Linked DNA regions of Homo sapiens: region 1 is linked to region 2. Evidence: fine-mapped expression QTL. A gene starts in region 2. The other region holds a variant in brackets. All regions are shown on one strand. Distances are between the middles of the regions.

Region 1 (12,268 bases), 69 kb before region 2:
ATGAGGGAGGTACCATTATATCCTCTTTGTAAAATGGGGAAACTGAGGCATGGAGACACAGTGATTTACTCAGATCAGATAGTTAGTAAAAACTGGAAAAAATAAACACTGAGGAAGGAAGGAGAGCTTGGGTAAGTAGAACCAACTGCCGTGGGCACCTGGTTTCAGGAACCAGCCTCCTTTGCCTTTGACCCTGTCTTTTCAGCACCATGTAACACAATCAAGAGATCTTGCTCTTGGGCAGGGCCTGTCCCCTCATCCTACAGGCTCTGCTTACAGCCCCTTTGAACCACCATGTCTCCAAGCACAAGTCCTCATTCTTTTCATTGGCTTCCAGTTAGTAACTCTGCCAGTCTCTCTATTCTTCCCTGGGCCTTCTCCATCTTTCTCTTTTGAGACACAGTTTTCTAGAAAACACAGTAGAGTTGGAAAAAGTACAGTGATCAGACAGGTAAGAGGCTTGGGCTGGATTCCTGGTTCACAGGTTCTGGTAAAACCGTTGCCCTCCCTGGCCTTTGTTTCCCTGCCCACCTACAAATGCAGACACTGGGTCAGATGCCCCCAAAGCATCATTCCAACACTGCCATTCTGTCTTTAACCCAGGAGTTCCCAACCCCCAGGCCACAGACTGGCACTGGTCTGTGGCCTGTTAGGAACCAGGCCGCACAGCAGGAGGTGAGCAGCGGACGAGCCAGTGAAGCTGCGTTCTGCCTGCTGTCAGATCAGCAGTGGCATAAGACTCTCGTGGGGGCAGGAACCCTATTGTGAATTGTGCATGCGAGGGATCTAGGTTGCGCGCTCCTTATGAGAATCTAATGATAAATGTAATGCACTTGAATCATACCGAAACCATCCCACCCCCACCTCCAGTCCATGGAAAAATTGTCTTCCACAAAACCAGTCCCTGGTGCCAAAAAGGCTGGGGACCGTGGATTTAACCCACCCCAGATTAGCCAGGGCTGTATGTGCCTGCGTGAGAACCTGCACCCACAGATGATGACAGGGAAAGGTCCTGCGTCTGAATCACCCAGGCCTTTACCAGATAGCTCAGCGCACGCCTTCACTGGCAGAACCCAGGTGACAAACAGGTCTGCATTTCCTGATCAGTCAGACTCCTCCCAGGAGGCTGGCACCTGGCCAGGCTCTTAAACCAAGAGAAGTTTCTTTAAGAGTCGAATTCCTCACAGGTGAAGTGCAGGAAAAAGACATTTATCTAGAGATAGGGAAAATAAATGATCTTGAGGGAATAATACATCCTGCTTTTACCTAAATTACCCAAGTGTTTCAGATGAAAGAGATGTTTCTACCCTAACTTTCTCAAAATAGCCTCACCTGTCCACTGTGACGTGCCCATGGAGCCATGTACAGAGTCTATAATTTGGGGGAGCTCCCTGTCTGCTCCCTCTCAGGGTCAAAAGCTGCAATAGGGGGTAGAAAGGCTGGCCTGGGGCTGCAGGACCATAGGTTCTGCTACCAATGTCCACAGAGGCCTTGGGCAAGCACCTCTCCTTATCTGGGCCTCGAATTCCCCAACTTCAGAGGGGAAGTGGAAGTGAGAGGAGGACTTCCTGGATTCCCCGACTCTCAGATCCGCACCCGCCTCTGAGGGCCGTTCCTGGCCTGTGGCTCTCTCCAGGCCTTCAGGGGGATCAAGAGCTCTTCATCTCTTTCTGTGAGCCAAGCCGGCACAGCCTCTTCTCAAGTGGAAAAACACCAAGTACTGCTGCCCAGCTCCATCCTTCCCGACTGAGGAGAGGCCGGCTGCCGGCCTGATGGAATGAGTCGTAATGAAGCCAGACAGTCCTGCAGAAAAAACACCACCACTGCCAAGATGCCTTTATTTCAGCGTGACTTCCCTGGAGGGTGCGATCCCATCCTCCATCTGCTTTCACAGAACCATTTCCCCACCAGATGTGGTGGGCAACATCTGAGGTGGGGGCCTCCAGGGCCAAGGCAGACCCCGCACACAGGCAGGAAAGTGCAGGGGCTGCCTCTGGGTCCACAGGGCCTGAGCTCCCCAGAGCCGCAGAGCAGATGGCAGCTGATGGCAGGTCATCGTGGTGTTCCTGAAGAAAACAGAAGAGCTTGCCCTTTTTTTTTTTTTTTTTTAAGCTGGATCATGTCTGAAATCCTAGAATTTCAGAGTCAAAAGGGAGTGCTGAGGCCTCACACCCAACCATTCACACATGGCTTTTGAAGGAACATCAATAACACAATCAATCAATGTGAAAACTATATAAGTCAATGAAACCGAGGAGCTGAGGACTGAGAGAGGTTCCTGCCCACGTGACCCAGTGTTTCCCTTTGCTCGTGTGGGGCAGGGGCTCTGTAGGTGTTTGCTATGTTGCTCTCTGTACTCTTCTGTGTTCATCTTTTCTAACTTAAAGCCAAAGGGGAGGTTCCACCGTGAAGCCGTTCATGAACAGAGCCACCCCTTGGTCCCTAGGAGTCTGTGTGGGTGTCCAGCGATGGAAGTCTAAAACTCAGAGCCCTCAGCCTTCCTCCTGGCCTCCCTGGGCCCCCACTGCTCCATGCCTCTTGCAGGGCACAGCAGCACAATGTGACACAGGGGCACCAGGTGCCAGTCTTGGTTCTGCCAGGGATGCCAGATGTGACCCTGAACAACCATCTTTCCCTCTCTGGGCCTCAGTTTCCCCATCTGTACCATGGCAGGCTGAGTTCAATGGCCCTACTCACTTATAGAGCCCTTGAAGATTTACAAAGGACTTTGCATTTTCTTACTGAGTCCAATTTAGGCAAGCCAGAGATGACTATTCCTAGTTCACAAACGGAGAAAGTGATGCTCTGTTTCCACACAACCATAATCCAGGTCCTGACCCGGTCTGGTACCCTCTTCAGCACCCTTCCCCTCTCCCAGGGTGGCTGAGGGGCACAAAGCCAGGCATTCCCCCTCCCAGCCTGGGCACCAACATCTACAGGCTAGACACCCACCCACTTGGCAAGGACAACCTTCTGTAGCCTCTGACCTTCAGGGCCTTGGCAAAGCAGTGACATGGACTCCACCTCCCTTCTCTTCTCCAGGCCCCCGACAGCAGGCCCTCACTCCCTGGTCTTCCGGGTCTTCACTTGACAGAAGCCCTAACCTGTCCTCAGGAGGGTTCTTCCTCCCCAACCCCTATCTACCTGCGACCTGAGGCAGGACCAGTGCAGGAGAGTGGGAGGAGACTGGGGTGGGAGGGCTGGGGAGGGCATCTGGTGCCTGCTGCCCAGGGCCCATCACCAGGAGGAGGCGAGTCCTTGCTGGGGTCAGGGGAGACGGTCTCTGGGCCTCCCCAGCTTGTCTCCCTGTGACAGCTCTGCCTGAGTCCCCTGAGGCTTTTTCAGCGAGCTCCATAACTAAGCCAGGCTCTCCACTCCTCCCTCTCAGGGGAGTCTGAAGAATGTCCCCTGAGGCCTGCTAGGAGGTCTGTGGGAGCAGGAAGTCAGACCGCTTCACTCAACCTGCACAGCACAGCACCTCTGTGATGGGGCAGCAGCCGGTAGGGGTGGGCTACAAGCAGCACCCAGTCCAGGGGGTGGGCTACAAGCAGCACCCAGAGTTGCAGGGCTCCAAACAAAAGCGAGGTCACTCTCCTACACCATGAATCCTTCCAGGCTCGCTGGAGAAGGTGGCCCTGGCCAGCAGGCCGTGCTCTCCCAGCTGCATGGCACAGACCTCCTCTGGTCCAGCCAGGCAGGCCCCCCCATAAGGTCTGGCTCCTTGGCACCTGGCACACCTCCACACATGATGACCCCCAACAGGCCAGCAGCTCCTTCTTCCCTCCTCCTCTGCCCACCCCCACAGCCCCAGGACCCACTGGGCTGCACCATCCTTGGCCTGCAGCTAGGAGGTACCTGCCTGGCCGGCAACGACAGATAGAAAACCTCACTCCTCCAGCTTAGCAGTTTTCTTTCTACCCAGACACCCCCTTGGGATCCCAACCTGGATGGCTTTTGCCTTCTAAGGCCTGGCTTCCCTCCCTGGTGTGGACAGCAGTGGGCTTCCACCCCATGGATGTGGCCTGGGGGTGGGGTAACAAAAACCAAGTCTGCCTTGTGCCCTGAGCAGAGTCGGCTCTTCCTGGAACATGCTTAAATGCCTTGTCCTGACTGTTGGGAAACCATCCACAAGTTCCCCCAGAAGCCCACGGTGAAGTTCAAAAGCAACTCTGAAGGAGCACTAGGCTGAAATGAGTTTAGAGACAATCTCCTGCAAGGGCCAAGGCTTGATCCAAGCAGCTGGCAGCACCCAAGGCCCCTCTGGCAGCCTGGCGCTGACCTGCCACTACCCCAGCTCCCACCCTCCTCCTCCAAATGCTGCCCTAACCACCCCCAGTGACTCCTCCACTCCTCTCACTGCCCACAGGCTTTGCACATCTTGTTCTCTTTACTGGAATACCATTCTGCCTCCCCTCCCTGTTTGGATAACTCATTCATTTGTCCATGTGTTCTCTCAACAAAAATTCTGAGGGCCTCTTCTGTGGACCAGACACAGGGCTGGATGCCAGGGCCCTGGCTGTGAACCAGCTCAGGAAGGTCCCTGTTCTCACGGGGCTTGTGTTCTGGAGTGGGGTGGGCAGTAGTAGGTGGCGGCAGATGTGGACAGGTAACCATATCGATGAGCAAGAGCACCAGCTGGCAGTGGAGTTATTAGAGGCAGGGCCTGGTTTTATCTTAATGGGGGAGGTCCCAGGAGGCCTCCACAAAGATGTGGCCTCTGTGCAATGAGAGGAGCCAGCAGGCACAGCGCCTGAGCACAGAGCCTGAGGGCTCAGGAAGGTGTTTGAGAATATTTGCTGGGAAGGTGAAAACAATTTGAGGGGGAATAAGAGTGTGCAAGGATGCATATGAAGGGGAATCAGGGGTTCTGTCCATCCTTCCTATCTCCGTAAGATGAAAATGTCAGTCCACCAGGCTGCCCGCCCTGAGCCACTTCATGTCCAGATGAACCCTTAGCACCGTGCATGTCCCCTGTAACCACCTGTTCCTGTCTGGCTCTCCTGTTCAATCATAGGTGCCATGAGGGCACCTGTATGTGTCTTGTTCAGCCCTGTATCCCTGCTGAGGACCTGCTAAGCACACTCTGCACATTTTTTTCAGTGCAAGGAAGGAAGGTGGGTAGGTAGGTAGGTGCATATGTGCTCAGTATCCCTGTACCCTCTGAGGGCAGCCAGCGGTTCTTACTTAGCAAAGTTCCACCCAGTCAGGAGCATTCCTGAGCATACAGGACTGTGTTGAGCCCACCAGGGAGAGCTGATGGCAGGGTCTCTGCCCATGACATTCAAACCTCCCAGCCCTTTGTGGGGCTGAACTTCCAGAGCAGGCAGTGGGGCATGATCCTGTACAGACAAGAGCCACGAAGGATCGACCGGAGAGCAAAGGGGAGGGGAAGCAGAGAGAAGAACAAGGACAGGTGAGATCTTGCCACGGAAGTGTTACATTGCTGTGCTTCTGATTAGCATTTTTGGTTGGAGAGGAAACACCTCAATTATTATTGTGCAAAACCATTGGAAAAAATTTTAAGATGCCAAGCATGAAAAGCCACCTTCACTTGAACCCTAACTAAGGAAAAATCATCCGTGCTGGTGAAATGTGTTTCATTGGAGTACCAAGCTTGGCTGGATGGCTCTCCTAGTGAACAGTGTCGTTCCCAGGAATGCATGGGAAATGGGTCTTGTTGTCTGGGTAACACCTAGGCTTTTTTAAAAAAGATTCTCAAATGCTTATTTCAAAGAACAAGTACCTTTCAATAAAGTTCAGGAACTGGCAAGATTAAGCTATGGTTTTAAAATCCATTTAATTATTAATATAACTTCAGGAGAATAGGGGTACCTGCTGGGTACCAGAGGATGCTTCTGGAGTACTAGAAATATTTTTTCTTAATCTAGACAATGTGTTCATGGGTGTGCGGTTTTGTGATAATTCATTGAGCAGAACACACATAGTATAACTACTGTGTATATGTTATATTTTAACTAAATTTTTTTTTTTTAAAAAAGGCCAATTGCCAGAAGTTCTGTAGCTCTGAGGGTGACTCGGTACAAGCTGGTAACCGGGCCTGCAGGGAGGGAAAGAGAGGCAGGTCACTTCCTCAAGAAGGCCTCGCCTCCAGCCCCACCAGTGCCCTGCCAATCCTTTCATCTTGGCACCAACGATGGTATGGGATTGGGGTTTTCTATCTGCCTCTCAACCTCATGGAGCATTTCTGGAGAGGACAGAACTCATCTAATTCTCCCCTGTATCATTTGTGCCTGCACAGAGATGTTCCAGGAATGTGTGCTGAATGAATGAGAATAAGGTGCTCATGTGCAAACACTTAATGTGTGAAATGGAAACTGAACGGCTGCAGGGAGTGGAAGTGATGATCTGTGGGGCGGCCTGGAATGTGTGGTTATGAATGTTGG[C/T]AGAGGGGAGATAGCGTGGGGAGGGAAGGGAGGCCCGGACGCAGTCGAAAGGTCGGCAGGTCGACCTGGTGGGTGGAAGGGATTCGGGCAGCTTGCCGTCTGAGGAGGGAAATTGGTTTTGATGTCGTTCCTGCAGCCCCTTCCCAGGTGGAGCACCACTGAGAACCCTCCCCGCTTTCAGAAACAAACGCGCACAAGTCCCCTTAACACTGGTCTGCGCAGGCCTTGTCAGCTAGCTGCCATTAACCTCTCCTTTCTTGACCTGCAGAAGACAGGAAATATCAGGGAACACACATGCTTCCTTGCTTGTTTTTTCTGGACACTCTGGGGAAGACTTGGGAAAATAAGATATTGCCAGAAAGAGCACTGACTTACTGAGCACAGTCGGCTTTGCTATCTCCTTCAAACAGGAGTTTCTGTAGGACACAGCCTTGGACAGCTGCCAGGACTCCGCAAGGACCACCCTGCAAAGAATGAGACCATTGCTGCCAGTGAGAACTGGCCTGGGGCAGAGTTTTTGGTTTCACCCAAACCCACCCCAGAACCCACCTGATAGAGTAAAGGGGCCCTGCCTTCTGCAACAGAAGGGCCTCTGATGTGGCAACTGCTTCTACAACACACTAACCTTGGGCCACAGAGAGGGAGTGACAAGACCCTTTGTCCACTCCTAGGGGAAGGGGCCAGTTGTCAGTGTGTCATGGGAGGAAAGTGACTCCTCATAACCAGTCAGCTGTGAAGCCAAGGACATCACCATAGGTTTTCTATCATCTAGGGAAATGTTTCTGTGTCTACAGGTTGAGGGTGTTAATTGTCTACCCAGCCTTCAAGGCCCATCCTAAAGTTCTCCTCCTCCAAGAAGCCTTTCCTGACCATCTCGGCTGGCAGTGAGCCCCTTCAACAGCCTGTGGTTACATGAGCTCTGCGCTCTCTTCTGCCCCACTTGTGGCCTGCTTCAGCACCACATTAGGTGTATCTTTGTCCTTTCTCACCCTGTGGTGCAGAGGCTTCTTGAGGAGCTCATCTCTGTAGGCATCACGGGGCTTAGCACAGGATCTGACTCCTGGGACACATTGGCAAAGGCTAGTGGGACTGAACAACACAAACAGACCTCATCCAGGTTTAAGGATTGTCTGAACGGCAGGTTGGGGTGCTCATGAAGACCAGCTGAGTTTGGCCACAAGAGGGAGGGACAGAAGCTGGTGGTCCTGGGGCTCGACCTCAGGCAGTGTGGGGCAGGGGAGGTTCCTGGGGCTTAAGAAACTGAACCGGACCAAGCTGCCCTGCTCAACTGCTGATTCTTGATCCTGGGTTTAGCTTATTTTCTGCCCATGAGTATAATGTGGGAACTGGGTATAAGCCATGTTCTAGGCCTGCAACCATTGGCCTCCGCTGGCCCAGCTTCTATTACATCCTTCTCTTCAAGCACTTGCTCTGCACACTTGATCCCTCTGCCTTTTCATGCAGCCCCTAGACTTTCAAACCGCCTCCCCTTCATTAATGCTGCCACCTGCCTGGAGTGCCCTTTCTCCAGCTCTATCTGCAAAATCCTGTGAATCTCTCAATGATCAGCCTAAGAAGGCCCCTCTAGTGGCCCCAAGCAGACTGAAGGCCTCCTACTGCTCTCTCTCCTGCTGAGGATCCCAGCACCTGCACCACTCACAGCAAGTGCTCCTTAAATCCATGTTCAATTTTAACATCTCCAAAGCAGAGGGTCTTATTCCCCAGCTCTTGCTGCACCAGCCACATCTGAAGTGCCTGCACCAAGTGACAACTCAGCACATGTGGGGCTGGCTGGTCCAGAATAGCTCAGCTAATGCTCACAGGATTAACCAAAACTGGGAGGTACACCCACCCCTATGCATGATGGCCCAGCAGAAAGGTCCCAAGGAAACCTAGGAGCAACCTGCCTTGTTCTGCACTATGCCGTATTTTAATGAGGCTGTGTTACTAAAGGAAAAACTCTGAAGTTTCCATTCTTCATTGAAACAGCAAAAGCTGGAACCAAACAGAAGGGTCTTTATTTCCTATAAAAAGAAGAGAGAGTTTTACTGGTTGTTTTAAAAGCAAGCAACAATACGATGTTCAGTGTGCATATTCCTGCAGAAGTTGTTCTTGAATTCTAGCAGGGAAGCCCATTTTCTAGCATGGTTCATCTCTTCTCTTTTTATTTTTCAGGCTCATTCTTCTTATATTTGATGAAAGAGAAACTCAATAATGAGGGTCTTACCTCTGGAACATCTTTAAACCAAGCTAGCCTGTGCTGACATGGGCCAAAATCTTTGTAAGCTCCTTACAGGGGCCTTGAGAAACAAAATTTTAGATTTGCAAGGGATCTTGGAGGTCCTCTGATCTTCCACAGGCAAGACTAGGGGTTTTCAAACTCGACCTCACATTAGAACCATCTAGGATACGAAGTTCCTAAAAACAATCTTGATGTTCAGAAAACACACCAGCCAATTAAACCCCAGTTGCTGAGGGTGAGACTCCAGTATCAGTAGTTTTAAGATTCCCCCAGGTGATTCCACAGTGTGCCGGGTTTGAGAGCCAGTGCTCTAGTGCAGGGTTACTAAACTGTGACCCACAGGCCAAATCTGCCCCCACCACCTGTTTGTAAATAATGTTCTACTGGCACACAGCAAAGCCCATTTGTTTCCATACCACCCATGGCTGTGTTCATACCATGATGGCAAAGTTGAATAGGTGCAGCAGAGATCACACTGCCAGCAAAGCCAAAAATACACTATTGAGCCCTTTACAGAAAACACCTGCCAACTCCTGGTCTAGTACAACTCTCTACCATGCGTAAGAACCTCCTCTGTGATGCCGCCCATGAGTGGTCCCCCGTGAACTCTGCTTGAACCATCCCAACCCCCCAGTGAAGGGGTTCCCACCACCTCTCAAGGCAGCCCCTCTACTTTCTCACGGCTGTCTTCTCCAGACTTCTGGCTGATAATGAGTTCACTGTTCATTTCCCATCAACCCACGCATCACCCTCCAGAGCCCCCAGAATGGTCAATCCCTTCCCCATGGACAGGCCCTCAGATGAGAAAGGCAGCAGGTCCCCGCCCACTCCCCTCATGATGGGCCCACCCTCTCTCTGCCATGGTTTTACATCTGAGGGGGTCTCTGAAGCCTTGAGTGAGCCCCAAGACCAGCAGGTGGATTCTACAGCCACTTCCCTGTACCCCCTCTCTGGGTCAGACCTTTCCTACAGACTCATTATTTTCCACCAGAATCAGCTCTTTTTTTCCTTTTCATTAAATATAAGGAAAAATCTCTTTGACAGAAGCATTTGTCCACATGTCATCAAATGTGGGCTGGTGGCACACAGGAGAAAGGATGTGTGGATTCATCTGTCAGGGCTCAGAATGACAGCTCCCGCTAGGCACAGTGTGGTCAACAGAGCCTGGGAACCTGGACTCTGCTTTCCAGAGGCCACGTGCCCTGGGCCCTCCTGTTTTCTCTGCAGGCCTCACTTTTTCCAGTTGCTTTTGGAGACGCTACTGCTGCATAGTCTTTAGGAGCCTGAGGGGTCTGCCCCAAGCATAAGTGCGCTCTGCAAAGACTCATTGCATGGTGACAGATGACAGAGCACCTCCTCCCAGGTTTGGGGCCATTTAAGTGTATCTGACCCTCTGTAGCTTCAAAAGAGAGAATGGAAGAAGGGGGAGATATGAGAGAGAAGGGGAGAGGGGAGGAGAGGGGAAGGAAACGAAAGGACAAAACCTCTAGAAAAATATTTTGCTCTTTGATTTGTATGCTGAGTAAATATGTAGTAAGTAGGAAGAGAAGGAAGTCAGCTGTGTCCCTAGGAGTTTTATTTTTCCCTCCTGGATCTTGGTGAAAGGCCAGAAGAGGACAGCGGGAATGACATTCCATCCTGCAGGAGCCTCTGGTCACGGGAGTGGTGAGGCCACCCTGGTAGCCGAGCATGGTGAGCAATCCCAGACACCCCTGCAGAAGAGGCTGCTGTGGCCAGGAACCTGCTCCTGGTCCCCTGTGACCACGGGGCCCTTTAAGTGGCCAAGGGAGTACACCTGAACAGTGCTGAAGAATTGTTAACACCTCCCTGTCCTTCCTTCACTGCAACCTGGCCAGGGCTTAGGAGACCAGTACAGGAGCAGCGCTGCTCTAATGGGGACAACTGGACCATTTCCATCACACCCTAACGGTGCCCACAGGGACATGATGAAGCAGCTCTATTCCCACGGTATTTGGAGGGGAGGACATAACCTCCTCCCTCACCTTTTGTCTTGGAGAGGGAACGAGAGCTGCAAGGACTAGACTGCAGTTTTCCTGACTCTCGGTTCACATTTTCTTCTACATCACACCCAAATTTCCATTTCAACAATGACCAAGAGATTACAATGAGCTGGATTGGGGCAGAAACACCAAAATCACGCCATCTATATCCATTCAAATCAAGACACATTTAACCCAGGAGTCTCCTTACACTTACCTTTGCTACTGAGAGGTCAATTGGTTTTGATGCTGTCTGCAACTTGAGCACTGATGGGACTGGCGACAGGATGACCTCTTCCCTTATCAACTCATCCTCCACATCCTCTGAAAGAAAACCATGGCCATGTGAGCCCTTCGTTATGACTCACGGAGAACAGAACATGAAGTCACTGAACACCACAGACATTGCTAAGTTTGTAGAAGGTTTGAGTGAAAGGAGGGTTCCTCCCCGCATTCATTCACCCCAGCTCTGTTCTGAAGTTCCCAGACCCTTAGCGGAAGGAAAGCAACCAGATCAAGAGAGTCCATGCTCCTTGTCACAACCCTGCTCTGTTCATACCACGAGGATGTTGCCGAGTGAGACTTAGCTACTGGTCCACTAGAAAGTTCCACGCATGGACATAGAGTGGAACAAGTGCCTGGGTCCTAAGCCATCGAACCAGGACCAGGAAAGCCTAGCTCAGACACATTTCTTACAAAAGGTGGGCATGACTCGAAAGATCATTCCCCCAAGGACAAAGGTGAAGAGGACAGGACTGGGAAAGAAAATGGAACCATTGCTGATAAAATAATTATTGCATATAATCACTATTGTAACTTGCATTTATTGACTGCTTGAATTTGATCACCTTCTTCCACAACAGCCTTATGAGAAAGTAATTATCATTACCCCCACTTATAGATGAGGAAACTGAGGCTTAGAGGAGTTAAGTAACTGGCCCCAAATCAATCAAATGGAAAGTGGCAGAGAGAGTGACTCCTAGTAACTCTACCATCCCACTGTCCTGGACCTCCAGCAGGGACCGTAAGCCATATTCCAGATATTGTTTTCTCATAGTGGGACAACTGAGGCCTAGAGAGGGTCCCAGCTGTGACTTCCCCGTTAGCTAAGGCCCCCTTGTCATTACACCTGCTGCCGCTGCATTCACCAGAACACAGTGATAAAGGACCCAGGGAGAAACAATGCCAAGGCAATGGTGCCGGCAAGGCTGAGCAGAGTGAACTCCAGAGGGTAGCTGAGGGCTTGGCTCTGTGAATCCAGCTCCCTAGAGGGGCCTGCCAGAGTGGGCCTGTGTGGGCGGGGGTGGTATCAAAGGCCACCATTCCCAGGACACACAGCTTATATCTTATGCTACAGCCTCCTTTCTCCCCAGGGCGACCCAGCCACAGCACAAGGGGAACTCCTAGAGACTCAGGCCACTGAACAAGCACATAGATTCTACCACTGGGCTGGGGAATAAAGTCTGGAATTTAAATATGAACCTGAACTTAGATGAGAATGCTTCTGATATGGTTTGGCTCTGTGTCCCCACCCAAATTTCATTTTGTAACTCCCATAATTCCCATGTGCTGTGCGAGGGACCCAGTGAGAGATAACCGAATCATGGGAGTGGGTCTTTCCT
Region 2 (10,943 bases):
CCATCATCCCACCCTGAACTGCCAGAAGACCAAGGTTCAAGGCCCAGCTGAGACATGCTCTAGCAATGGAAAATCTGGGGTTGGCGAAGTGAGGGTCCTGTTCGCAAGTGCCTGGCTTCTCTATTTGAAAAACAACCACAGCAGTTGCTCTCTGCCCACCTCACTGGGCCATGGTGATTGTCAAATGGCTGGAGGCTGAGAACATGCCTCACCAACAGCTCAGCCTGGTGTTAGGGGTGTTCCTTGTTCTTAATGGATTCCAGACCCCCAGTGCTACACAGGCTTCAGCCTCTCCCAGAGCCTTTGTGTTCAGAATTTTACAGAGGCTCTAGCTGCTGGGGAAACATGACAAAACCCATGCCCACCATGAATTTAGCTAAGAAGGTCAATTTGGGAAACTAAAAGAACACAATCTTGAAACAAACAGAGGAAAGAGGAGGCCGTAGGGAAGGGAAATGGAAAGAAATGGATATATGGGTCAGAAAAAAGGTGGATTAGGTGCATCGGGAAGAGTCCATTTGAAGGAGAGGTGGGGTTCAAAACCAACCACCCGCATTTCATCTGGGCTTAACCATGGCTTTCCCTCCAGTCAAAGTGATGTGGAACATGCTATAACGAGGCTCTCTCTGATGGATAATTCTTTATGTCTGTCAACAGTTCAAATCAGCAAGCCCTGTACATTTAACAAACCCCACCCCTACCCTGGCTCTAGAGCGTGATGCACACCAGCATTTGAAAACCACCGGGGGCCTGGGCATGGTGCCATAGGCCTGCAGTCCCTGAACTTTGAGAGGCCGAGGCAGGAGGAATCTTTGAGCTCATGACTTCAAGGCCACAGTGAGCTATGATTACACCACTGCACTCCATCCTGGATGAAAGAGTGAGACCCTATCTCTAAAAAAAAAAAAGAAAAAGAAAAAGAAAGAAAGAAGAAAAGGAAAGAAAAGAAAAGAAATACCATTGGGGTAGAGGACAAGGGTGCCCTTGGGAGTCAGCCAGTCCTCAGTCCCATCCAGCCCATTCAAACTTCATTCGCCCAACAAACACCTGTCATGCACCTCCTATGTGCCAGGCTCTGTTCTAGATGCAGGAGAGACAGAAGGAATAAGAGCTGATGTTCTGTTGGGAAAGCAGACCATAAATGTATAGTGTGGCAGCTGCTAATATGCACTACGAGGGAGACAAAGCAGGGAGAGGGAAGACAAGGATGAAGGCCACTGTTTTAGATGGCCAGCTATTTGTTCAGCATCATCCACATGCTCACTCCTGTCCCAGTTTCCCTATCTGTGAAACGAAGGGAACAGACCACTAGTCCGTAAGTCCAGTTGCTAGAGGCAGAGCAGTGAACAGATGAAAGTCCCAGTCCTCAGGGAGCTTGCACTCTATAGGGGGAGAGACAACAAGTATAGTATGATATGGGGAAAAAACATACAAAGTAGGATAAGGAGACAGAGAGGGCTAGGGTGGGTGTGGGGATGCGCTGCTACTTTATCAAAGGTGGTCAGGAAAGGCATCATTGATTGATGAGGGAATCAAAAGAGCAGGCCACACAGACACTTGGGAGAAAAGTGTTCCAGGCAAGGAACAGCAAGTGCAAAGGCCCTGAGCCAGTTGCAAAAGGCCAGTGCATCTAGAGCTGCATGGCAGGGGAAAGGAGGTAAGGAAGTCAGAAGTCACCCAGAGACTCATAAGGAAAGGTCTTGTGGGCTTTTATGAAATGGGAAGGCTACTATTTTGAACTGACATATTTTTGAAAGATCACTTGGCTGCTAGGTTGAAAATAAACTGTAGGAGGCAGGAGATTAAGGAGAAACCATTTAGGAGGCTATTGAACAATTCACAAATCACATGAAACAAAGGGGTGGCTTGGAGCAAGGTGTTTGCAACAGAAGTGGTAAGAAGTGGCTACATTCTGTATGTGCTCTGATGATAAAGCCAACAGATTTGCTGATGGACTGGATATGAGGTGCACAAGAAAGGAACAAGCCAAGAATAATTCCAAAGTTTTGGGCCCAGGCAACTAGAAGGACAGAGATGCCATTTATTCCAATGGGCACAGTTGTAGGAGGAACAGGAAATCAGAAATTGAGTTTTGGACATTATGATAAATATATATTTGTTCTGTGTCCCAGGTTCCTGGCACATAGATTCTAAAATCCTTGGAATCTCCAAGGTGATAAGAATGTCTTCTGTATGCTAATGTGATGACTAGTGGATGGGGACCCCTAGATAGCTTCAGGATGGGGGCTGGTCACCAGAAAGAGCAAACCTTGATTAGAGGGCTGGAACTTTCAGCCCTACCTCCCAATCTCCCAGAGAGGGAAGAGAAGCTATAGATTGAGCTAACCACCAATGGTCAATGATTTAATCAAACATTCCTATATAGCAGAATTGACACAAAATCTCCTGAATGATGGGGTTCAGGCAGTTCCCAGGTTGGTGCTGGGAGGGCAGCATGCTGAAGACGGCACAGAAGTTCCATGACCCTCCACCCACACCTTGCCCTATGCATCTCTTCCATCTGGCTGTTCCTGAATTGTGTCCTTTATAGTAAACTGGTAAATGTAAGTAAAGTGTTTCTCCGAGTTCTGTGAGCCATTCTAGCACATTATTAAAACTGTGGAGGGGGTTGTGGGAACCCTCAATTTATAGCTAGTTGGTCAGAAGTTCAGGTGGCAACTTGGGACTTCTGACTAGCATCTGAAGTGGGGGCAGTCATGAGCGTGACTTAACCTGCAGGGTCTGCACTAACTCTTGGTAGTGTCAGGACTGATTTGAATTGTACGACACCCAATTGGTGTCTGGAGAGTTGGAGATTTAGTTTGTATGGAGGAAAAATCCCCATACATTTGGTGTCTGAAGTGTGAGCAGAAACACTATCAGAGACATGTTGAGATGCTTGTTAGACATCCCAGTAGATATGTAGAATAGGCAGTTGTAAGAATTCAAGAGTTCAAGGAGAGGTCTCAGCTAGAGATAGACATTTGGGAATTGTCAGCATATAGATGGTATGGGAATCCACAAGACTGGCTGAGATGTCTTGAGAGTGAACGGAAAGAAGAAGAGAAGAGAGCCATAAACTAAGTCCTTGAGCCCACCAGAGTGCACAGGACAGAGAAACTAGGGGGACCAGCGAAGACCCTGAAGGGAGCACCCAGAGGAGTAGGAGGAAAGCTAAGAGGGACAGTCTCCTAGAAGACAAGCAGAAGGACACAATCAACTGTGACAAACATAATCATTAGATCAAGAAGGGCGAGGACTAAAAATTCCAGGTTAATAATGGCCCTAAGAAGAGCTATTTCCATGGAATGATGGGGACAAAAGTCTGATTAAAATGGGTTCGAGAAAGCAGAGAAAAGAATTAAAATGAAAGTAGACACAGGTCCTTTATGGGGTTTCTATAGAAAGGGAGGAAATAATAAACCAGTAGCTAGGGTTTGGGGGTCAAGATGGGATTCTGCAGGAGCACAACATGTGCTGATAGGAGTAACCTAGTAGAGGAGGGAAATGCATGGTGCAGGAGACAGCGACATCCCTGAGCACACAAGAGAGGGCATGCACACATGGAGGGGTGGGCCTAACCAGGGGTATGGAGAATTCATCCACAAGAACACTAAAGAGAGCAGAGTGAATGGTGCAGCCCAGGAAGGTGAGTAAGTGTGGTAGTGGGAGCCTGCTGGACTTCTCTCAAGACTTCTGTTTTCTCAGTGAAATTAGATGGGGAAGGAGCTTCAGGGTTTGAAGAGAGAGAAGGTATGAAATGGTCATCCAGGGTCTCAGAGGGTAAACAGTCTGGAGAGTTGCAACCAGGTGGGCAGGCACCCATAAGGCACCACAAGGGTGAGTGGCCATGGATTTAGAGTGATACCATCAACATAGTGGTGTGTGTTTCTCTCCAATCTCATTCAGCTCTATGGGCGCAAGTGTAGAGCAGGACGAGTGGAATTTTACTGTCAGAAGAGAATGATGAAAGGAGAGAAGCGCAAAAGAGCTGCACCTGTTATGGAGGGTGCAATTATAAGGATGGGTGGGTGAGAGGTAGGTGGGTTATGGTAGGCCCGAGGGACTGTGAAAAGTTGGCAGGAACAATGCAATATAGATGTGGTGAGGCTGGAGAAGAGTTTACGTGGGGCTATGATGGGAAACAAGCTAGAAATTTTGACAGGTGGGAAGCTTGGAATTGAGATTACAGAAAGGGCGCAGTACTGGTAACAACAAGCCCAGCTCATGACCATGGGGCAGGGTGGCAGAGGGAGGATGGCACAGTCACTGCAGGAGTGGAGCCACAGACTCAAGAAGCTGGGGCAGCAGAAGAGTCACCTCAGCAGACCCTGCCATCTCCAGGAGACTATCATGACTCCCCCGAGGGAAGACCACACTTGGTGAGTTCAAGTAGGCCAAAGTGGTTGAAGGGTAGAGGGCGGAGCAAGCAGTCATGGAAGATGAGGTCTGAGGGTAGCCAGAGCCAAGTAATGGAGAGACTTGAAGTCTAATTATGATGGGAAGCCAGTAGAGGGGTTTGAGCAGGGGAATTACATGGTCTGACCTGCTCACCCTGGGCAAGTTTCTTGGCCTCCTGGTCTCACAATAATCTTATGTGAAAGGGAATACTTATACCTATCTTTCAGGACTGTTACGAGGATCTGAGACAACAAACCAGCACCTTCTAGGTACCTGGCACCAAGGTGGCAGCTCTCTTGGTTACGACTGCTGGGTGCAATGACTGCCTGTGCAAAACCCTGTGGGGAGCACGTGGTCTCTGCCCTAGAGCAGAAGGCGATGAGAAAGCAGTATACCTGGGCTGCAGTCCCAGCTCACTGTGACCTTCTGAGTAACTGTGGGCAACTCCTTTCTACTCTTAGGGCCTTAGTGTGCCCAGATAAAACATGCGAGGGAGAGGAGACCAGGGGAACTCGGCCATGTCAAGTGGGGGGTGGTGGGGAGGGATGTGGGAGAGGCTAGAAATGAAATTGAGATGGTAAGCTGGGGTCAAGCTACAGGGCAGGCTTGGATGTCAGTGAGGACACTGGATTTCATTTGTACTCAAGAAAGAACACGAGGAAGCCCTCTCTAAGAGTTTTTTTCAGTGACCCAGACTTAAAAGAAATGATGTTAACAGTCAGCTTTCCAGGGTGTGTCAATTGATATCCAACATGCAGCCAGGACAGGTGATGGCAGGTCAATTAGCCATAAAGACAGGGCAGATGCGACAAAGCCAAACGCATTTAAAATTTTTTCAAATAAAAATAAATCATAAAAAACACACAAAGACACTTTCCAAACAGGTGCACTTCAGAGACACCTGTTTGGTGTCAGAAACAGTGAGGGTGGGAGGAGGTATAAAGTTGAACACCTACGTGCACATTGTATCTATATGTCAGATCCAATGCTTGGAAGCTGCCCATATGTTAATATTAATCCTCATTATAAATCTGCAAAGAGTAGGTCTTACTTTCCTGTTTTACAGATAACGAAATTGAGACAGTGAGTAAAGTACTGAGGTTCACACTGCAAACTAGTAGCAAATATTTGAATTGTCTCCGTCTGACTTCAAAGTCCTTCCCCTTTCCTCCATTCAAAAAATTACGTGTATGTGTTTTCATACAAGACAAGTACCCATCGCCCTAGCCCAGTATGACACTGCAAGGACAGACAAAACACACAGAGTGCAGCCCTCAGTCACCATGTGCTGAATGAGCTAATGTATGTCCCCCTCCACTACCACGCCCAAGACCCCCCGGCGAGCTCCTTCCCCACCGAGGTCCCCATCTCCACCCTGAGGCCAGATGACAGCTAAGGACCTTCCAAGCTTGTGAACACTGCAAAAACTCTCCTGGGACAAGACAATAGGAAAACTTACAAAAATTAAAGCAACCACTGGAATTCCCACTGTTGACTAAAATGACTAAGGGTTTGACCGTCAAGAACTTTTCTGGGCTTTTGGGGTTCCCTCTGGGAGAAGTTCTTTCCGAGTGGGACCCTGACTTGCGTGGGTAGCGCACGGAGGCCGGCAGCCAGGCTAGGGCGCAGGCCTGCCCGCTGTGCGCCCGCGCTAGGATTGCTTGGCGCGGCCCCCAGGCCCCCTCCCCAGCTGCCGCCGCCCCGGAGCGCGGATGCCCCAGGAGGGCAGCGGACGGGGTCCAAACCGTGCCTTGCGGAAGCGCCCGGTGACGACGGCAGAAACGCCTCGTGGGAAATGTAGTTTCCCCTGTCCCGGGAAAGCGGCGCTCTTCTGGGGCATCTCTGGAGCAGGCAGTAGGTAGGGAACGGGCGCCCTCCCAGAAGCTGCAAAGCCTTCAGGGGAGACCCCGATGATCCCCCCAAATTAGAGCCACTTCCTGGGCTTTGGAGGGGGCGAGCCGTTACCTTTCTGCTGAGGAACTCCCTGACCAAGGAGGCGGCCACCTCCTCCACGAAGAGGCTGTCCATGGCTCTGGCTCTGGCTCTGCCCACGAGGCCCACGCCGGGCCGCAGCACCAGGCAACTGGGTCTGTCCGGCGCAGTATGGCCGCGTTGCCGTGGCGACGGCGGCGTCGGCGCGGCAAGAACTCCTCCCCTTCCCTGGGGCTGGCGGGCTGGGGCGGGAGGGAAGGGGTGGAGCGTCCCGCAAACTCGCGTCTCGGAGTGGGAGGCCGCAGTCAGGGCGCCCTGGTGTCGCCTAGGGCCCCGTCCACGGCTCCGGACTCGGGGCCTCACTCTGACCCTGGCCCTGGTCATCTGAGAGGCCTAGGACAAATTACCGCTCCGCTCCGAGGCTCCATTTTCCTAGACATAAAATGGGAAGAATACCTGCCTCCTTGTTTCTGGAGGACTAAACTCACAGGGAAGTGACCCCCTCAGGTCCACCCTCAGCACCACGGCCCCCTCTGGGGCCACCAACGCTACTGACCTTGGCGGGCCTTGACGGTGGGGGCAAGGAAGCCCAGCATTCTGCTTCTTGGGCACCGAAATTAAAGGAGATGTTCCTCGCCCCCTTGGTGCCTGCTTTCCCGTAATGAGACTGCCATTTATTGATCACCAAGCTCTTAACTCACGGTTGCACTTTTAATCCTTACAACTTCCTGGCTAGGTAGTTACTGTTGGCCCCATTCTTTAAAACGGGACACTGAGATTCAGAAAGGCTAAGATTTTGCTGAGGCCCACACAGCTGGGTACTGGGAAAGTTGGGTTTCTAACCAAGCCCAGTACATTTTCCCCGAACTTAGTCACCTGGGTTCCACCTTCACAATCTTTGCCACTTCCGCATGTTACCTATTGTATTCCTTTGCTTGGGCTGCCATACAAAGTACCACAGACCATGTGGCTTAAACAACACATTTATTGTCTCCCAGTTCTGAGGGCTACAGACCAAGATCGAGGTGTCAGCTGGATGGTTTCTCCTGAGGCCTCTCTCCCTGGCCTCTATTATAGATGGCCACCTTCTCCCAGTGTCTTCACGTGGCTAGCCGTCCGTGTGTGCCTGTGTCCTAATCTCTTCTTATAAAGACATCAGTTGTATTGGAATAGGGTCCACCCTAATGACTGCATTTCCACTTCATCACCTCTTTAAAGACCCTATCCAACACAGTCACATTCTGGAATACCAGGCATTAGGACTTCAACACGGGAATTTTTTTTTCTTTTTTTTTTTTTTTTTTTGAGACAGAGTCCCGCTCAGGTGCCCGGGCTGGAATGCAGTGGCGCAATCTCGGCTCACTGCCAAGTGAACAACCACCTCCCGGATTCAAACCATTCTCCTCCCTCAGCCTCCTGAGTAGCTGGGATTTCAGGCGCCCACCACCGTGCCCAGCTAATATTTGTACTTTTAGTAGAGACGGGGTTTCACCATGTTGCCAGACTGGTCTTGAACTCCTGACCTCAGGCAGTCCGCCCACCTCGGCCTCCCAAAGTGCTGGGATTACAGGCGTGAGCCACCGCACCCGGCCCAACACAGGAGTTTTGAAAGACACAATTCAGCCCTTAACCCCTATACAGTTACTTATGTATTATTTTCTTTAAATCCACATACATGTTTTACAATTTATTTTAAAAGGAAAGTGTTCCCAAGCAGTAATAGCCACAAGATCTTGGGTTTTATGTGCTTATTAAATCTCTAATACACATTAAAACAAACACAAAACCAGAAAGGTATGCATTCACCTAAATCACCTTACAACCACCACTGGCACATGTACCACACTTGGGAAGCAACTATCTCACCCTATACAGTCTCCATAGGACGTAGCTTTAATGTGGCAGATTGCACCATAATCTCCAGGCAATTTCCCCTCTCAACGTGCAATGGTTCTTTGAGAAGCCTCTTTTGAACATGTTGTGCTATGTGAGAAAGAGCCATGTGCTCTTATATGTAGAGAGAGAAGGGCAGAGTTGCAGGAGACAGTATGATGCTTGGTCCAGGGGCCCTCATGTTCCAGCTGTGAAGACACACTGATGGATGATGTGTAATAATGAAAGAATAACATGAGACAGATTTATGCTCCATAAGAGATTGTGTATCAGGGGTCCCCAACCCCCTGGGCTGTGGACCGGTATGGGTCTGTGGCCTATTAGGAACCAGGTCACACAGCAGGAGGTGAGTAGCTGCAAAGGAACATTACCACCTGAGCTCCACCTCCTGTCCAATCAGCCACAGCATTAGCTTCTCATAGAATCACAAACCCTATTGTGAACTGCACATGCGAGGGACCTAGGTTGCGCACTCCTTATGAGACTCTAATGCCTGATGATCTGAGGTGGAACGGTTTCATCCCAAAACCATCCCCCACCTCCCATGCAAAAACTGTCTTCCACGAAACTGGTCCCTGGTGCCAAAAATGTTGAGGACTGCTGTTGTGTATCACAGATAGTAGGTGTTATATAGTAGGTCAGAAGAGAGATTTCCCCCGTGGAGGCAGACGAAGGTGAAAAGAGAAAAAATCATTCATTCCTCCATTCATTTACTCCTTTAAAAATATTTGTTGAGCCCTTACCACGTGCCAGGTGTATGGGTGCTGCAGATTTAACACTGTAAAATATATGCCTTCTTGAAGAGAGAATGGGGAAAGATGCAAATGGGGAGATGGACAGAAAAAAAAATTTATAAATGCATACAAAACACAGAGCACTGCAGATGATTTAAAGGGTATCATAGATATATGTGTGTATGTATTTTAGAGGCAGCATCTCATTCTGTCACCTAAACGGGGTTCAGTGGCACAATCATAGCTCACTGTAAGCTCAAATTTTTGAGCTCAAATGATCCTCCTGCCTAACCTCCCAAGGAGCTAGGACTACTGGCATGCACCACCCTACCTAGTTTATTTGTTTATTTATTTATAGAGATAGGGTCTCACTATGTTGCCCAGGCTGGTCTTAAACTCCTGGCCTCAAGCTATCCTCCTGTCTGGAGGATAGCTTGAAGATATGCAGCTTCCCAAAGTGCTGAGATTGCAGGAGTGAGTCACTGCAGCTGACCCCCAAAAATCATAGACTTGAAGAGGGAAAAAAGCATGGAGGGAGTATAGGAGGACTTTTTAAGGCAAGCAGAAATTATAATTTTTAAAAGTTGACTGGATAAGATCACTTCGATGGTAGAACTTCAGCAAGGAAGAGAGGATGTGAGCTATGCAGAGACTTGGAGGGAGAGCACTGCAGGCAGAAGAAACGCAAATGCAGAGGCCCTGCAAGGGCGACCAACCTGAGTGCTTGTGAAATTTTGAGGCCAGAGGGAGCAGAGAGGAGACAGAAACAGGGACCTGGTGGTATAGGGCCATCAGAAGGGCTTGGCTTTTCCTCTGAATGGGGAATCCTTTGGAGAGTTTTGGGCAGAGGAGAGACAGGATCTGACTTAGGTTTTGACAGGATCTCTTTGGCTTTTGTTTTGAGAATCGATTGTAGATTAAGGGCAAGTACAATGGATCCTCAAAAAACATTGCTTCCTTCAACATTGTTTCATTATGACGTTGAAAAGAAAAAAAAATCAGTTCCCAGCTGGGGCTACTGTCTGTGTGGAGTTTGCGTGTCCTCCCCATGTCTGCACGGGTTTCCTCCATCATCCCAAAGATGTGCACGCTGGGTGAATGTGTGTGTCTACATGGTCCCAGTGTGAGTGATTGTGGATGTGGGTGTGGGTGTGAGTGCTTCCTGTGATGGAATGTTGTCCTGTCCAGGGCAGGCCTTTTGCCCTGATCACTCATGATCCTGAACTGGAATAAGCAGGTAAAGATTGGTGATCTTTTTGGGACCAGAAATATGCCAGGAACTCAACTCTTGTTTATAGCAATTAGCCTATGGTAACACTGGTTTTGTTATATGTCATTTCGCTGAAAGCTGCAATTTCCAAAAACCTATGGATGATGCTAAATTAGGACTTACTGTATGGAAGCAGGGAGACTAGCTGGGGGACAACTGCACCAATCAGTGGTCCAGGTAAAACTTAGGCTAGACATGGTTAAGTGCGTGTGTGTGTGTGTGTGTGTGTGTGTGTGTGTGTGTGTGTGTGTATGTGTGTGTGTGTGTGTGTGTCTGTCACTTTCCTGGCCCTGAAACTCTTTTTTCACATTGGAATGAAAGGTTAAGCAAGAGAAGTGCAGGAATGCATTCTTTTTCCAGGCACATAGCTGGCTCCTGGGAATAAAAGAACCTTAACACAGCCTTAAGGTGGCAAGTGAAAGGGGCAATCTGGTCATCATGGAAGGGCAGAGGGTGTGCTACCAGACATCTGGGAAAGACTAGATCACATCATGTGTCCCATTCTTTCCCACCAATCCTCCACAAGGAATCCTCATTTCTCTACACCGTGTTCCCGTGAGCTGGAACATTCTCATAAACCTAAGGGAGCCCTGCTGTCCTGCCTGAACATGAATGGTAATTGAGGTCTTCTTATTAAAAAAACATGCTGGAGATAAAAACAGCAATGCCATCAAAATAAGGACCCAATCATTGTAAATATCTACAATCACTTA

Which allele goes with the higher level. Alleles are on the strand shown, and positions count from the first base shown. SD is a standard deviation of normalised expression in the study named.
In carriers of allele C in region 1, the expression in coronary artery of the gene that starts at base 6,506 in region 2 tends to be lower than with T alone (large effect, 0.82 SD a copy in GTEx).

What was found.
Region 1: its variant is fine-mapped to the expression of MINDY4 in coronary artery (GTEx, PIP 0.97).

What each region holds. Positions count from the first base shown.
Region 1 is chr7:30,835,360-30,847,627 of GRCh38, reverse strand. MINDY4 (MINDY lysine 48 deubiquitinase 4) reads right to left here. Exons shown (of 18, transcript NM_032222.3): 7 at 10,864-10,970; 8 at 8,312-8,428; 9 at 6,780-6,868. It overlaps INMT-MINDY4 (INMT-MINDY4 readthrough (NMD candidate)), which reads right to left. Exons shown (of 20, transcript NR_037598.1): 9 at 10,864-10,970; 10 at 8,312-8,428; 11 at 6,780-6,868. Among named protein-coding and RNA genes, the nearest start is that of MINDY4, 70 kb to the right of the region's middle. The variant C/T (reference allele first, on the strand shown) is at 6,405.
Region 2 is chr7:30,766,980-30,777,922 of GRCh38, reverse strand. MINDY4 (MINDY lysine 48 deubiquitinase 4) reads right to left here and starts at 6,506. Exons shown (of 18, transcript NM_032222.3): 1 at 6,367-6,506. The coding sequence starts at 6,429. All of the region lies in intron 3 of INMT-MINDY4 (INMT-MINDY4 readthrough (NMD candidate)), which reads right to left. RefSeq lists silencers at 5,946-6,095, 6,466-6,515, 6,576-6,625 and an enhancer at 6,096-6,390.